Homo sapiens: one gene and its partners. The protein of the gene in region 4 purifies or fractionates together with the protein of the main gene of each other region. This does not show direct contact. Each region holds a gene or a part of one and is shown on either strand. Other genes may lie near its edges.

Evidence for each region.
Region 1: the proteins of RPP40 (region 4) and NPM1 purify together in Homo sapiens (affinity purification with mass spectrometry; 4 studies listed by BioGRID and IntAct, with this or other methods). This does not show direct contact.
Region 2: the proteins of RPP40 (region 4) and RALY fractionate together in Homo sapiens (co-fractionation; one large-scale study listed by BioGRID). This does not show direct contact.
Region 3: the proteins of RPP40 (region 4) and RPP38 fractionate together in Homo sapiens (co-fractionation; one large-scale study listed by BioGRID). This does not show direct contact.

Annotation. Positions count from the first base shown.
Region 1 is NC_000005.10:171,404,849-171,408,364, reverse strand, and holds part of NPM1 (nucleophosmin), read right to left. Parts: intron 3,064-3,516; coding exon 2,962-3,063; intron 1,969-2,961; coding exon of another isoform or gene 1,960-1,968; exon of another isoform or gene 1,240-1,959; intron 666-1,239; coding exon 591-665; intron 1-590. UniProt on the Homo sapiens protein: Involved in diverse cellular processes such as ribosome biogenesis, centrosome duplication, protein chaperoning, histone assembly, cell proliferation, and regulation of tumor suppressors p53/TP53 and ARF.
Region 2 is NC_000020.11:33,996,911-34,000,650, forward strand, and holds part of RALY (RNA-binding protein Raly), read left to right. Parts: intron 1-3,740. UniProt on the Homo sapiens protein: RNA-binding protein that acts as a transcriptional cofactor for cholesterol biosynthetic genes in the liver. Binds the lipid-responsive non-coding RNA LeXis and is required for LeXis-mediated effect on cholesterogenesis.
Region 3 is NC_000010.11:15,102,556-15,104,997, forward strand, and holds the end of RPP38 (ribonuclease P protein subunit p38), read left to right. Parts: intron 1-749; 5' UTR 750-759; coding exon 760-1,611; 3' UTR 1,612-1,702; downstream 1,703-2,442. UniProt on the Homo sapiens protein: Component of ribonuclease P, a ribonucleoprotein complex that generates mature tRNA molecules by cleaving their 5'-ends. Also a component of the MRP ribonuclease complex, which cleaves pre-rRNA sequences.
Region 4 is NC_000006.12:4,997,421-5,001,188, reverse strand, and holds part of RPP40 (ribonuclease P protein subunit p40), read left to right. Parts: intron 1-557; coding exon 558-626; intron 627-1,284; coding exon 1,285-1,380; intron 1,381-2,347; coding exon 2,348-2,473; intron 2,474-3,768. UniProt on the Homo sapiens protein: Component of ribonuclease P, a ribonucleoprotein complex that generates mature tRNA molecules by cleaving their 5'-ends. Also a component of the MRP ribonuclease complex, which cleaves pre-rRNA sequences.

The sequences.
Region 1 (3,516 bases), on a different chromosome or scaffold from region 4:
CCTTACACTTATGAGTCAACTGTAAATAAGAGCAAAAATAAATGCATAATCTTTATGTTGACTAAGACTTTCACATGTACTAACTGTAAAATCTAACAGCTAACTCAAGCTTATGTATCTGGTAGTAGCCACAATTTAGTGTCTTGCTTCCAGATTTCATGTTAGGATGATTTTGGCATAATGTATTTCCCATAAGATCTAGGAAAAAAAAAAAAAAGATCTCTACCAACTCCCAAAAAAGCCAAGACCAGACTGCCCCAAGCAGTCAAATGGAACAGCAAGGAAAACCACAGCAATTTCCTTAACCAACATAGTACCAAAAAAGTAAAACTGAATTCAATAACCAAGAAATAATTTACCAACTATAGGAAATCTGGGAAAAATATACTAAAGTTATCATCTCAGACTGCCAACTGTATTCTTCATGCATTTCATTAAATACATGAGTTTTCAGGTATTTCATTAAATGAAATATTATCTGTGGTTAGGAACTTTTTAAAAAGAGCCAACACTTAAAAAGGGTAAAGGCAGAATCATAATAAATCACAAAAAAACTTGGATTTAATCATGTCCCCAGAAAATCCAGTTACCTCTTGGTCAGTCATCCGGAAGCAATTCTTCACATAATTGATGAATTTGGCTTCCACTTTGGGAAGAGAACCACCCTATTAAGACAAAAGCATTATTACAGGTAAGTAGAGAAATACACCGAGAGAGATACCTTTAGAAAATTCCTCAATAATCTGCATGCTACTACATGGATCAGTTTATTCTTTTTCCCTTCAACTTTCCAAGAATACTCCGTATCTTTTTCAGGGCCAGAAAGCCCTATTGGGCAGCATGGCTAGTATCTCTATTCAAACAGATTTGCCAAAGGGTCAAATCTTCCCTGACAACCTCTCTAGGAACATAAAATATAAGCTACACTTGAGATTCGACAAACAAACATGGCAACTCGGTTGCTTATCTAAATTATCTAACAAGTCGGTTATCACCCAGAACCAAATACAACCCATAACATCCCTTTGGAGAACCATGTCAAGTGACCCAAACTGTTCTTTAAAAACAAACAAACAAAACCCCACAAAACACTTGCTGACCACAAACTGGTTCAGAACAACAATGATCTGGTCATCAGTTAAAGATATATAAAGTTGAATGGGGAAAAAATTACAGTAATTACATTTCACTAATCACTCTTACCATTTCCTTCAAATTATGGATACAGGCAAGAAACTACAATAGGGGAAAAAATTACAGTAATTACACTTCTCTAATCACTCTCACCATTTCCTTCAAATTACGGATATAGGCAAGAAACTACAACAGTATTGGCAAGACCTGTGACTTTGTAACCAAAATTTCAAAACATTACTATTGCAAATATCTTGAAATGTTTGTATTTATCACTACTTTGGAATTTAAAGCATTGAATATATTTGTTTTTACTAAATTTAATTAATACCTTTCCCTCTAAGTATCTTTTATGCATTTTTAAAAGATTGAAAAGGTTTTCAAATGTCCAAGGGACTTTGGCAGAATCAGGTATAGCATTAAGAAACTTAACTGCCTCCAATAACCTAGTAAAATAAACCTCACAATTTCCATTTCAAAATTATTGTCACATACATTCTTAATTGATGCATTCAAATATTTATTGAGCAGCTAAGGAGATACAAAGGCGATTTAAAACATTGTCAGGTGAGGCAAATGCACAAGTAATAGAAAGCAAAGGGCAAGGTTCACTGAATCACAGCAGTCAGAAGAAAGTGCTTTAGGGAACCAAGAGATTGTTTCCAGCCTGAAGAGGCATGGGTGGCAAATCAGAAAAGGGGATTGAGATTAAAATAGAAGACTTCAGTCTGGATTGTTGATGACACTCAGTATGGACTATATTTGTCTCTCCTTTTCCTTTCTCCCCATCTTTGGGCTTAATTTACATGTAGTGCCCAGGACTGTTCAATGCGCCTGCAATTAAACCAAGGAGATAGGACCATATTAAAATGGAGGGGAGGGGCATCTAAAAGATGTCATTTTAGCATTGTATCCAAGGGACAAAAATCAGTGATAACCAGGAAGGCTAAAGGGTTTACAGTGTGACTAAAAGAAATATGTTCCAGTTCTAAAATTCTTTTTCCAGTGGACTTATCACTGTACAAGGAATCTACTGAAGCCACGAAAAATCTATAGATTACAAGAAAAACATGGGGAAATGAGTTGGCAATTTTTCACCACCCCACATTTGCTCTCAATAGTTGGAGTCTAAAAGTATTATTCATAGAATTAAAGCTTCTCTCAAATGTGCTTCCAAGGCATTTAAACCATTTATTCCATATCCTACTCAAATCCCCCAGTCAAGCAGATGAGAGACCTAACCCTCTTCCCACATTTCCATTATTTAAGACAAAAGGAAACTAGATTTAAGCCTATTAGTCATTCACGAAATCTAGCTATTACTACATGTATTAACTGGTGACAACTTGGTGTAAAGGGCAAAGAGAAATGTCTCAATCTGCTGAAAATCACTTCTGACTAGGGTCAATCATGAATATTAACTATAATACCAAGCAACAGCCAGCATCTACTTTTCCAGCTGTTTGTAATTTTAATGAAGTCTCATACGCCCTCTGTTGGTTCTCTAGCATATCTTACAACCAGAATAGGCAAAGGGTTTTCACTGATCTATTTTAACATGGAAGGTCAGAATGTTATCTTGCAACCAGTGCACTACGTTCCTTGCATAATGGAAAATAAGGCATATTTAATTTTGCATATGCAAAAATCACCACAGACACGATTATAAATGTTTTATAAGAAATTTTTGAAAAAATTCATACCACGAACCAGGCAAGTATATTAAACCAAAACAAACAAAAAAACAAGAAACATTCAAGTCTATGCAAACCAGACACGTGCAATTTGAGGGGGGAGACAAAGTTTTTTTAAGATAACTTTACTCACTTTTTCTATACTTGCTTGCATTTTTGCTTTAATGTCTTCTACAGAACTAGGTCCTTTTGGTGTTTTAGGAGTTTTTTCCTGTTTCTTGAAGGATTCTTGTCCCTGAAAAAGAAATGAATTTCCAAAAGGTCATAAGAATAAATACAATTCCTAATTAAAACCCATTCTATCTGGATTTCCTCAAATATTCTCACAAAACTCCCTTATAAAGCTAATTATACAACTGGAATTATCATCAATAAATTCACGCCATATAATTTTGTTCTTAAAATCTTTCCTTTAAGGAAGGAATAAGATGATTAGCTAGGCATGGTGGTGCATGCCTGTAATCCCAGCTACTCAGGAGGCTAAGGCAGGAGGATTGCTTAAGCCCAGCAGCTGGAGGCTGTAGTGAGCTATGATCATACCACTGTACTTCAACCTGGGCAAGAGTAGGCCACCCATCTCTTTAAATAAAAAAAAAAAGAGTAACTTGGGAGTTTGCTTTTATGCACAGTACTAAGTCAGTTCAAAAAAGGAAATCAGGGCAGACAGAGTCTCGTTCACTCAGTGCTC
Region 2 (3,740 bases), on a different chromosome or scaffold from region 4:
TTAGTGTCTTCTTTAGTCTCAGAGTGCATTGTAAATGCAAAATTATTAGTCCTCACCTGCAGCAGAGATGTGGCATGCAGCTCCAGGGCAGGAACCCAGGCCTCTCTGAGTAAGACCTACTTTTCTCCCCCTTAGGTTGATGTTCTGTATCACTGAAGCCTGTTTTGAATCTCTGCTGGCCCCCCAGTATCTGCAGAAGAGACCTTATACCCTGTTTTTTTTGGAGACGGAGTCTCACTCCGTCGCCCAGGCTGGATTGCGGTGGCACGATCTTGGCTCCCTGCAACCTCAACCTCCTGGGTTCAAGGGATCTCTTGCCTCAGCCTCCCGAGTAGCTGGGACTACAGGCATGCACCATCACGCCTGGGTAATTTTTGTATTTTTAGTACAGATAGGGTTTCACCACGTTGGCCAGGCTGGCTTCGAACTCCTGAACCTCAGGTGATCCTCCTGTCTTGGCCTTCCAAAGTGCTGGGATTACAGGCATGAGCCACCACGCCAGGCTATTACACCCTTAAAATAGAACCGAGATAACTCCCCACCCTCACCTTGTTTGCACCTGCCCTTCTGACAGTCCAGGGTTTGGGGATATTGGGCTGCAGTTATCAGGAATAACAGTGCAGTGACAGCAGCTTGGATCAAAACTACTCAGAATGATTAAGTAGATCACCTTTATGAAATGTTCCCTCTTTCTTCCCCCTTTTTCCATAGAGGCACACAGGAGGGATTAGCTTTTGGGTTCTTGGAGGATGTTTATGGATACTCACTGCTTGCAGTTGGTTAAGATGGAGTTAGATGCTGCATATAGCCTTTCAAAATGCCCTTTGACCGTTTTCTGTGTTGGTCCATTTAGGGGAGTGGGCTCTTCATGTTTATGAAGATGGTTGGAATATTGTCCTGATAACAACTGGGGGTTGGGAGAGGCAGTGTCTCAGAGATGGTTAATAGGGTAACAAACACATGATCATGTGTCTGGTCATGTCACACTCTCCTTAAAAATCTGATGGCCCCAACATTGCCTGCATATTAAAGTTCAAACAAATATGACCCATGAGGTCAGTGTGTTGAATTTATTGAATAGAATCTTGTAGTTGAGGGACCTTACAGTCATTTAGACCAGCCACCTGGCTGACATTTGAGTTGGTTACTTGTTGAGATTGTCTTTCTTTGGATACCTCATTTTTGGAAAGTTTTTCATTCACTGAAGAATTAATGAGCCTCTGTTAGACCTGGTGCTACGCTTAGGGATTTGGGTTTGTATAGCGTAGTGGGAAAGATAGGCAAGGAAACAGGCAGTGTGAGAAGTGTTGTCACAGGGACAGACACCAGGAGAGCACAGAAAAATGATGCCTAACCCAGCATTGGAAGGTCAGGGAAGGCTTTTTAGGAGGAGAAGTTGGTTAAGCCTAGCCCTCAAGAGAACAGACATAAGCCAGGAAAAGAAGAGATCTGGGGAGTCAGGGAAGAGGCAGAGATAAGACTGTTCTAGGTAGAAGGAACAGTAAGTTCAGAAATGGTGATAATAGGTTAAGACCATCCCGAAAGTACGTACTGTTACTATTCCCATTCTGTAGTTGAAGGAAACGGGCCAAGAGAGCTAAACAAATTTCTCAGGATTCTTGGGTGGAGCATAATGCTTGAGGTGGGTGGATATGGCCAGACAGGAGACTTTCAAGGTAGGCAGAGCAGAGGCCAAGTCAGGAAAGGGCCTTCTTGCCTGTGTTGAGGAGTTTGGACTTCATCCGGAGGTGAGGGGGCCATGATTCAATGTGCATTTTGGAAGGATATCTCTGGCTGCCTGTTCAGGAGCGGACTGGAGAGCTAGAACACTGTGGGCAGAGAGACCAGTTAGGAGGTTGGCAAGAGGTGATGGTGTTTCAAATGAAGGTTGTGGGAGAGCGTGTGCAAGAGTGTGTGCAGAAAAAAGATGGAATTGCTGGGCGTGGTGGCTCACGTTTGTAGTCCTAGCACTTTGGGAGGCTGAGGTGGGTGGATCACCTGAGGTCAGGAGTTTGAGACTAGCCTGGCCAACGTGGTGAAACCCCGTCTCTACTAAAAATAAAAAAAAAATTAGTCGGGTGTGGTGGCAGGCACCTGTAATCCCAGCTATGTGGGAGGCTAAGGCAGGAGAATCACTTGAACCTGGGAGGTGGAGGTTGCAGTGAGCTGAGATCGAACCACTGCACTCCAGCCTGGGTGTGAGACTCCATCTCAAAAAAAAAAAAAAAAAAGGAAAGAAAAAAGGTGGAATTGAGTGATGAGACAAAGATTATTGGTGTGGAGGGTAAGGAAGGAATCGGGATGACATCTGGTTTCTACCTGGTGCAGTTTTGTAAATGGGTGCTGTTTATTGAGGTGAGGACACAGGAGAAGAAGGAGCACGTAAGGGAGGGGGTAGGGTTTCTTATGCAGGGTCTCCTTACATATGCTTTCACTTACCTCTGGTTATGGATTCTAGTTCTTTGTGTCAGGTCTGAAAGGGAGAGAGTGAGAGTATGGCACAACTGGTCATGTTCCTGGCTAAACTGGATGATGCAAACATTAGTTTAGGAAGAGAGGAGATATTCAATCCTAGACATCCGGGTGTGGCACAGCCTGGAAACTGCTTACGTTAAGCCAAGAAAAGTTTACATTTTATCCAGGCTACATCCTTTGGCACTGGTCTTTTCGTGTACTAGTGTATTCCTAAGTCCCTCTCTAAGCCGAAGCCACTTCTCTGCTTACTCTCTGCTAGGCACTGGGAAAACAAAGATAAGTAAAACGTATCCTAAGGAGCTCATGATCCAGAAGGGCAGAAGTCTCAGTAGCTTGGATACAGCGGTGGCCTGGGGAGAGGGTGGATGGGGCAGGGCAGGGTAGGACAGGATGGAGAGGGACCCGGAAGGGTTTCTATTAGGGATAGGAGTCAGGAGACCCCACTGTGTGCTCCAGTCTTTTTCTCGGGTGGCACGTGTCTAGGTTTATTCATCTGAATAATGACTAGATGACCCATAAGGTCCCTTCTAGCAATTACATTTTATGATTCTAGGTGGTGGTTTAGATAATATATCTCTAGGAGAGGTATTTCTTTCTTCTTCTCCCCCTTCTTAGTTTGGCATTGGTGAGGGGATATAGTAGGGGTGGAGATAGCAAGGTTTTCACTTGAGTGTCTTGGTCTTATTCAATTTTGGCTTCATGTCTATATAGCTGGAAGGGAGAAAATGACAGCCGTAATGTTAACCTGCTTGTCCTACAACTTCCCCCTGGGTACTGTAAGGAAATTGTGCTCAGGGTGCAGCTCACAGACCCTTAGGAATAGAGACAGAGTGCAGTGGAATAAATAGGAAGTCTTGTCACTAGCCTGAGCATCGTTTGGTCAGTGTGTGGGCTGGACTAAGGTCCTTTCTTTTTATAGCCCTGTTTCCTCATAAAATCATCTGGGGGGGTCCCTGAAATTCTATAAAGGCCCAAAGAGTGGGGGTGGGGAGGTAGGGACAGAAAAAGGGTTGGAGGTCCCTGTCTCTCTCACTTCTCCCCTCTCTTCGAACGAATAAGTAGAAGCAGGTATCTGGCCAAGTATTAATGTTGGTCATCTTTTGTTTCCACAGCCTTGCCTTATTTCCTCAGTGTTAGTGTCTTCTGTCATTTCATAATGGCTTTCATGGTAATCAATGTCCTGTACCTCCTGGGAGGAAGGAAGGAAAGATGGGATATTGTCCCTGGGCTCTAGTCTCCATCTCCAGAAGAGCCATTTAAGACAT
Region 3 (2,442 bases), on a different chromosome or scaffold from region 4:
AGATTAATACCATACAGTCACTAGAAGGTTAATTATGAACAAGTAGAAACAGAATATTTTTAATAAATGAAATAGACAAATGGAATTGTACTATGATTGCAATAATTAAAACTTTCACATATTGCTTGTATAGGAATAAAGACAAAGTCATATAAAAAAATGGGGAAAATTAAACACTACTCACCCATAGTCCTGAGTATTTTAAAGAGCCTTCGTAGAGCATTCAAAATCGGGTAAGAAAAATGGGGAAAAATAAAATTACTTAATCTTTAAAAGGAAGACAAGCGTATGCTCACCTAATTGGACTTATATAATCAGGCTTGCTCTAGCTTATCCAGAATCAGAGTACAGGCCGGGCGCAGTGGCTCATGCCTGTAATCCCAGCACTTTGGGAGGCCGAGGTGGGTGGATCACCTGAGGTCAGGAGTTTGAGACCAGCCTGGGCAACATGGTGAAACCCTGTCTCTACTAAAAAAAAATAGAAACATTAGCTGGGCTTGGTGGCGGGCGCCTGTAATCCCAGCTACTCGGGAGGCTGAGGCAGGAGAATCGCTTGAACCCAGGAGGTGGAGGTTGCAGTGAGCTGAGATTGTGCCACTGCACTCCAGCCTGGGCAACAAGAGTGAAATTCTGTCTCAAAAAATAAATACATAAATAAATAAGAATCAGAGAGTACAGTCAAGATATTCTTAAGTCATGCAGTTGTCGCTAACATGAATTTTTTCTGTTGTCATTTTGCTTCTTGGAAGGATTTTCAAAATGGCTGCAGCTCCTCAAGCACCGGGGCGGGGATCTCTCCGTAAGACGAGACCTCTGGTTGTGAAGACGTCGTTGAACAACCCATACATCATCCGCTGGAGCGCTCTGGAGAGCGAGGATATGCACTTCATCCTACAGACGCTTGAGGACAGGCTTAAAGCTATTGGACTTCAGAAGATTGAAGATAAGAAGAAAAAGAACAAAACACCTTTTCTGAAAAAAGAAAGCAGAGAGAAATGCAGCATTGCTGTTGATATTAGTGAGAATCTGAAGGAGAAGAAAACAGATGCTAAGCAGCAAGTGTCAGGGTGGACGCCTGCACACGTCAGGAAGCAGCTTGCCATTGGCGTTAACGAAGTTACCAGAGCCCTGGAAAGGAGGGAACTGCTGTTAGTTCTGGTGTGTAAATCAGTCAAGCCTGCCATGATCACCTCACACTTGATTCAGTTAAGCCTAAGCAGAAGTGTCCCTGCCTGTCAGGTCCCCCGGCTCAGTGAGAGAATCGCCCCCGTCATTGGCTTAAAATGTGTTCTAGCCTTGGCGTTCAAAAAGAACACCACTGACTTTGTGGACGAAGTAAGAGCCATCATCCCCAGAGTCCCCAGTTTAAGTGTACCATGGCTTCAAGACAGAATTGAAGATTCTGGGGAAAATTTAGAGACTGAACCTCTGGAAAGCCAAGACAGAGAGCTTTTGGACACTTCATTTGAAGATCTGTCAAAACCTAAGAGAAAGCTTGCTGACGGTCGGCAGGCTTCTGTAACATTACAACCCCTTAAAATAAAGAAACTGATTCCAAACCCTAATAAGATAAGGAAACCACCCAAAAGTAAAAAAGCTACTCCAAAGTAATCTTGCATAAACTTGTCATGTCATACAGTTTGTGAAAGGACACCTTGTAAAGAAGCCTTGAAACTAATAAAATGAGTTATACTTACATAGATTCATAGGGTCCTGTTTGGTAATATTCAAATGTGTAAGACTCTTTGTAACTATGGCACAGATATACTAAGTGCAGGAAATATTCAAAATTAGGAATAGCCAAACAGACATTTATTGAAACTAGTGTTCATGCGTGTGTAAATTGACTTTTTCTTTTTCTTTTTTTTTTTTTTGAGACAGTTTCACTCTTGTTGTCCAGGCTGGAGTGCAATGGTGCGGTCTCAGCTCACTGCAACCTCCTCCTCACGGGTTCAAGCAATTCTCCTGCCTCAGCTTCCCAAGTATCTGGGACTACAGGTGCGCACCACCATGCCTAGCTAAGTTTTGTATTTTTAGTAGACACGGGGTTTTACCATGTTGGCCAGGATGGTTTCCGTCTCTTGACCTCGTGATTTGCCCACGTCAGCCTCCCAAAGTGCTAGGATTACAGCTGCGAGCCACCGTGCCTGGCCTTTTTTTTTTTTTTTTTGAGACAGAGTTTCGTTCTGTCGCCAAGGCAGGAGTGCAGCGGCGCAATCTCGGCTCACTGCACCCTCCACCACCCAGATTCAACGATTCTCCTGTCTCAGCCGCCTGAGTAGCTGGGATTGCAGGTGCCCACCACCACACCCAGCTCATTTTTTTGTATTTTTAGTAGAGATGGGGTTTCACCATGTTGGTCAGGCTGGTCTCGAACTGACCTCGTGATCCACCTGCCTTGTCCTCCCAAAGTGCTGAGATGACAGACGTGAGCAGCCGCGT
Region 4 (3,768 bases):
GGGTAGCTTTTGAATCTTAACCTGGAACTCTGTCTCTGAGAGGTGTATGTTTATCTAGAATTCTACTTTGGACCCCTCTCCGCGCATCCCCAAAGGTCACGTTCCGTTCTGAGTCAGTTTTTTGCTTGATGATAGTAAACTTGCACAAATAGGCTGTTGGTCAGGGAGTGAACTAGCTGGAGCTTGGTCTTCTGCAAGCTTGGTCTTCTGCATGCTTGGTCTTCTGCATGCTTGGTCTTCTGCATGCTTGTTCTTCTGCATGCTTGGTCTTCTGCATGCTTGGTCTTCTGCATGCTTGGTCTTCTGCAAGCTTTGTCTTCTGCATGCTTGGTCTTCTGCATGCTTGGTCTTCTGCATGCTTGGTCTTCTGCATGCTTGGTCTTCTGCATGCTGCAGCTTACCCTTAGCAGATGTTTGGTTTATTGAGTGAGCTGGAGCAGGGGTAGAAACTGACCTTTAATGACCCGGAAGACTGGTTATCTTGTAAAAATAATCCACTAACATCTTGCAGGTGTAATTTCTTGTTTTAAATTTTTCCTCTGTACTTTCTCTTCCAGGTTCTTGCTATGCACTAACATACAATACACATATTGATGAAGATAATACTGTTGCCCTGCTACCAAATGGTAACACTTTATTTTTTCATCTTTCTTTAATTGTTAAAAAAAAATGCATACTGTAAAAAAAAAAAAAAAAAAGTCAGCTGGGCACGGTGGCTCACGCCTGTAATCCCTGCACTTTGGGAGGCCAAAGCAGGTGTATCACCTGAGGTCAGGAGTTCGAGACCAGCCTGGCCAACATGGTGAAACCCTGCCTCTACTAAAAATACAAAAATTAGCCGGCGTGGTGGCTCATGCCTGTAGTCCCAGCTCCTTGGGAGGCTGAGGCAGGAGAATCGCTTTGAACCTGGGAGGCGGAGGTTGCAGTGAGCCAAGATTGCGCCACTGCGCTCCAGCCTGGGAGACAGAATGAGATTGTCTGAAAAAAAAAAAGAAGATATTCAAAAGAATGAGTATACCATGACTTATTTATTTCATCTTTAGTAGAAATTCAGATTATTTTAAATTTCACTATTATAAATAATATCCTTGGATGTATAATGTATAAATAATATCTGTTACAAGACATGTATACACATAAATAATATTCTTGTGATATAAATAAGATCCTTGTATGCAGTTTGTTACATTGATATCTAACTGCTCAATTTGCCTTGCTTTCTTTTAGTCAGACAACGTAAGTTCTAGTTTTGGTATCTTATGGGAGTTATTATTTGATTTATAGGGAAATTAATTTTGTCACTGGATAAAGACACTTATGAAGAAACTGGACTTCAGGGTCATCCATCTCAGTTTTCTGGCAGAAAAATTATGAAATTTAGTAAGTATCATGTGTGTTCCATCTGTTTCTAATCTTCTTGTGGCAATTTAAATTTAAATGTTTGAATTGCCTCTAATCTCTTTGTTCAAAAAAATGTGGCCTTTTAAAAAAAATCTGTCAAACTTCTGACTCGAGCTTCACAGAGGATAGGATGATGCTTTTAAGTTCATTTCTTTTCAGCTGTAGATGCATTTAATAAAGATTGTAGACTTGGACTGGTCAATTAAATATATATGTTTCGGGTTAAACCTTGGCAGGCCAAGGCGGGCGGATCATGAGGTCAAGAGATTGAGACCATTGTGACCAACATGGCGAAACCCCATCTCTGCTAAAAATGCAAAAATTAGCTGGGCGTGGTGGCGCATGCCTGTAGTCCCAGCTACTCAGGAGGCTGAGGCAGGAGAATTGCTTGAACCCGGGAGGGGGAGTTTGCAGTGAGCCAAGATCGCACCACTGCACTTCAGCCTGGCGACAGAGTGAGAGTCCATCTCAAAAAAAAAAAAAAAAAAAAAAAAAATTCCAAGTACTGAACCCAAGATAGGAGTCTACAACTTATTCTTAATAAAGAATTTCCTTTGGTTTCCCCAAGTCTTTATGATTACTAGTAGAAATTCACCCATGAGTGAAGAGATGTTTTGCTGACAGCGTCTGGCTCGAACATCAATAGCTAAGGCCGCCACATCCATAAGTAGATTAAACCTGACCTCTCAAGGTCCTCTGCCCTTGGTCTTTGACCTAGGAAACATATAAATTGAAAATGTCTGTTTTTATTAGCTCTCAAGGTTAGAAGTGCCCACCAAAGGGATCTTATTTATTTGGCAAACCAAAGGGAGTGGAAGAAGAATAAAATAATTTTACTATCCATAAAATTTCCCAAAATTCTAGTTTTTAAAAATGTAACACTTTTTCCATGGTAGAAGCTGTACGTATATGAATGAAATATATGTTCTTTTTTTCATTTTTAAAGTTGTTTCCATTGATTTGATGGAATTATCCTTAAACTTGGATTCTAAGAAGTATGAAAGAATATCTTGGTCTTTCAAAGAAAAGAAGCCATTGAAATTTGATTTTCTTTTGGCTTGGCATAAAACAGGTATGAGGAATAAATTATGTAATGATACAGTGATTTTGAAAGTAATTGTTAATTAAAGAGGAGTAATGGAGGATTGAATGGTGATTCACTCTTTAGTCAAGGAATATTCTATACGTATATATAAAAATATTATTAAGGAAACTAGCCCTTCTGACATCTCTGAAAACCATAGTTCAGGATCATGTAGGCACGCAGGCCTTTCTGCCTGCGTCTCTTTGGGTTATATGTAGATCCAGAGATCTTGAGAGTGGCTTCAGAGCAGCTAAATTTTATCTATTTCTCCCCTTTCCTCTCTCCAGCTTACCTTGAACAGCCTTGACTATAATATTTTTAAGTAGCACCAATTATATACACAATCTGCTTATTTATTATCACAGGGTACTGACTCAGGCCTACCATTAAATGTCAGATGAATTTATTCTAACTTTTAATTGATTAGGACACTAAATTTAGTTCAAAGTTTGCTATTCACCACACAGCGTAATCTGCCTAAAACGGCCATGTATGTTGCTCCTTTTAGAAGTGTATCTTTGACCCAGATAATAATGGATCAAGTCATCAGGAATTATGGTGTAGTACTCTCTTTTGGAGGATAGGAAGCATGGTGGTCTGTTTTAGAAATAGCCCCATCTGTCTGCTCCTCATGGGAAGTGTCTCGTCACTGGGTGCTCCAAGTTGCTCCCATGAGTCCTAGGTCTGGCCTTCGGTGCCTCTCCTTCCATATATGGTAGATAGAAAAGAGGGCAGAAAGGCTTATTGAAGTTTCAGTTGCGTGAAGTCTTCTATGCAGATCATCCAGACGTTGGATTCTGGATAGCTCCCTATTCCTAAAGCTCCTAACTATTTTAAGGATTTGTCAGGACTGTGAAAGTTCTGAGATTTCCTCATACTTGCAGGCTAACTAGGTAGCCTGCTACAGTCTCAGGGATGCTGGCAGAAGACACATAAGCCCTGGGTCAGAGACACAGGACTTAATTCCTCAGAGGAATGGTAGTAGCCAAAATGTATTAGTCAGGGTTCTCCAGAGAGAAAGGACCAATAGGATGGATGGATGGATGGATGGATGGATGAGAGGAGATTTATTAGGGAAATTGATCATGCAGTTATGGAGGCTGAGGAGTCCCACGACAGGCTGTCTGCAAGTGGGAGACCCAGGGATGCTGGTAGCCTGGCTCAGTCCAAATATGAAGGCCTGAGAATCAGGAAAGAAGATGGTATAATTCTCAGTCCAAGGCCAAAGCCTGACAACCTGTGGATCTGCTGGTGCAAGCCCCAGAGTCCAAAGGCTAGAGAAC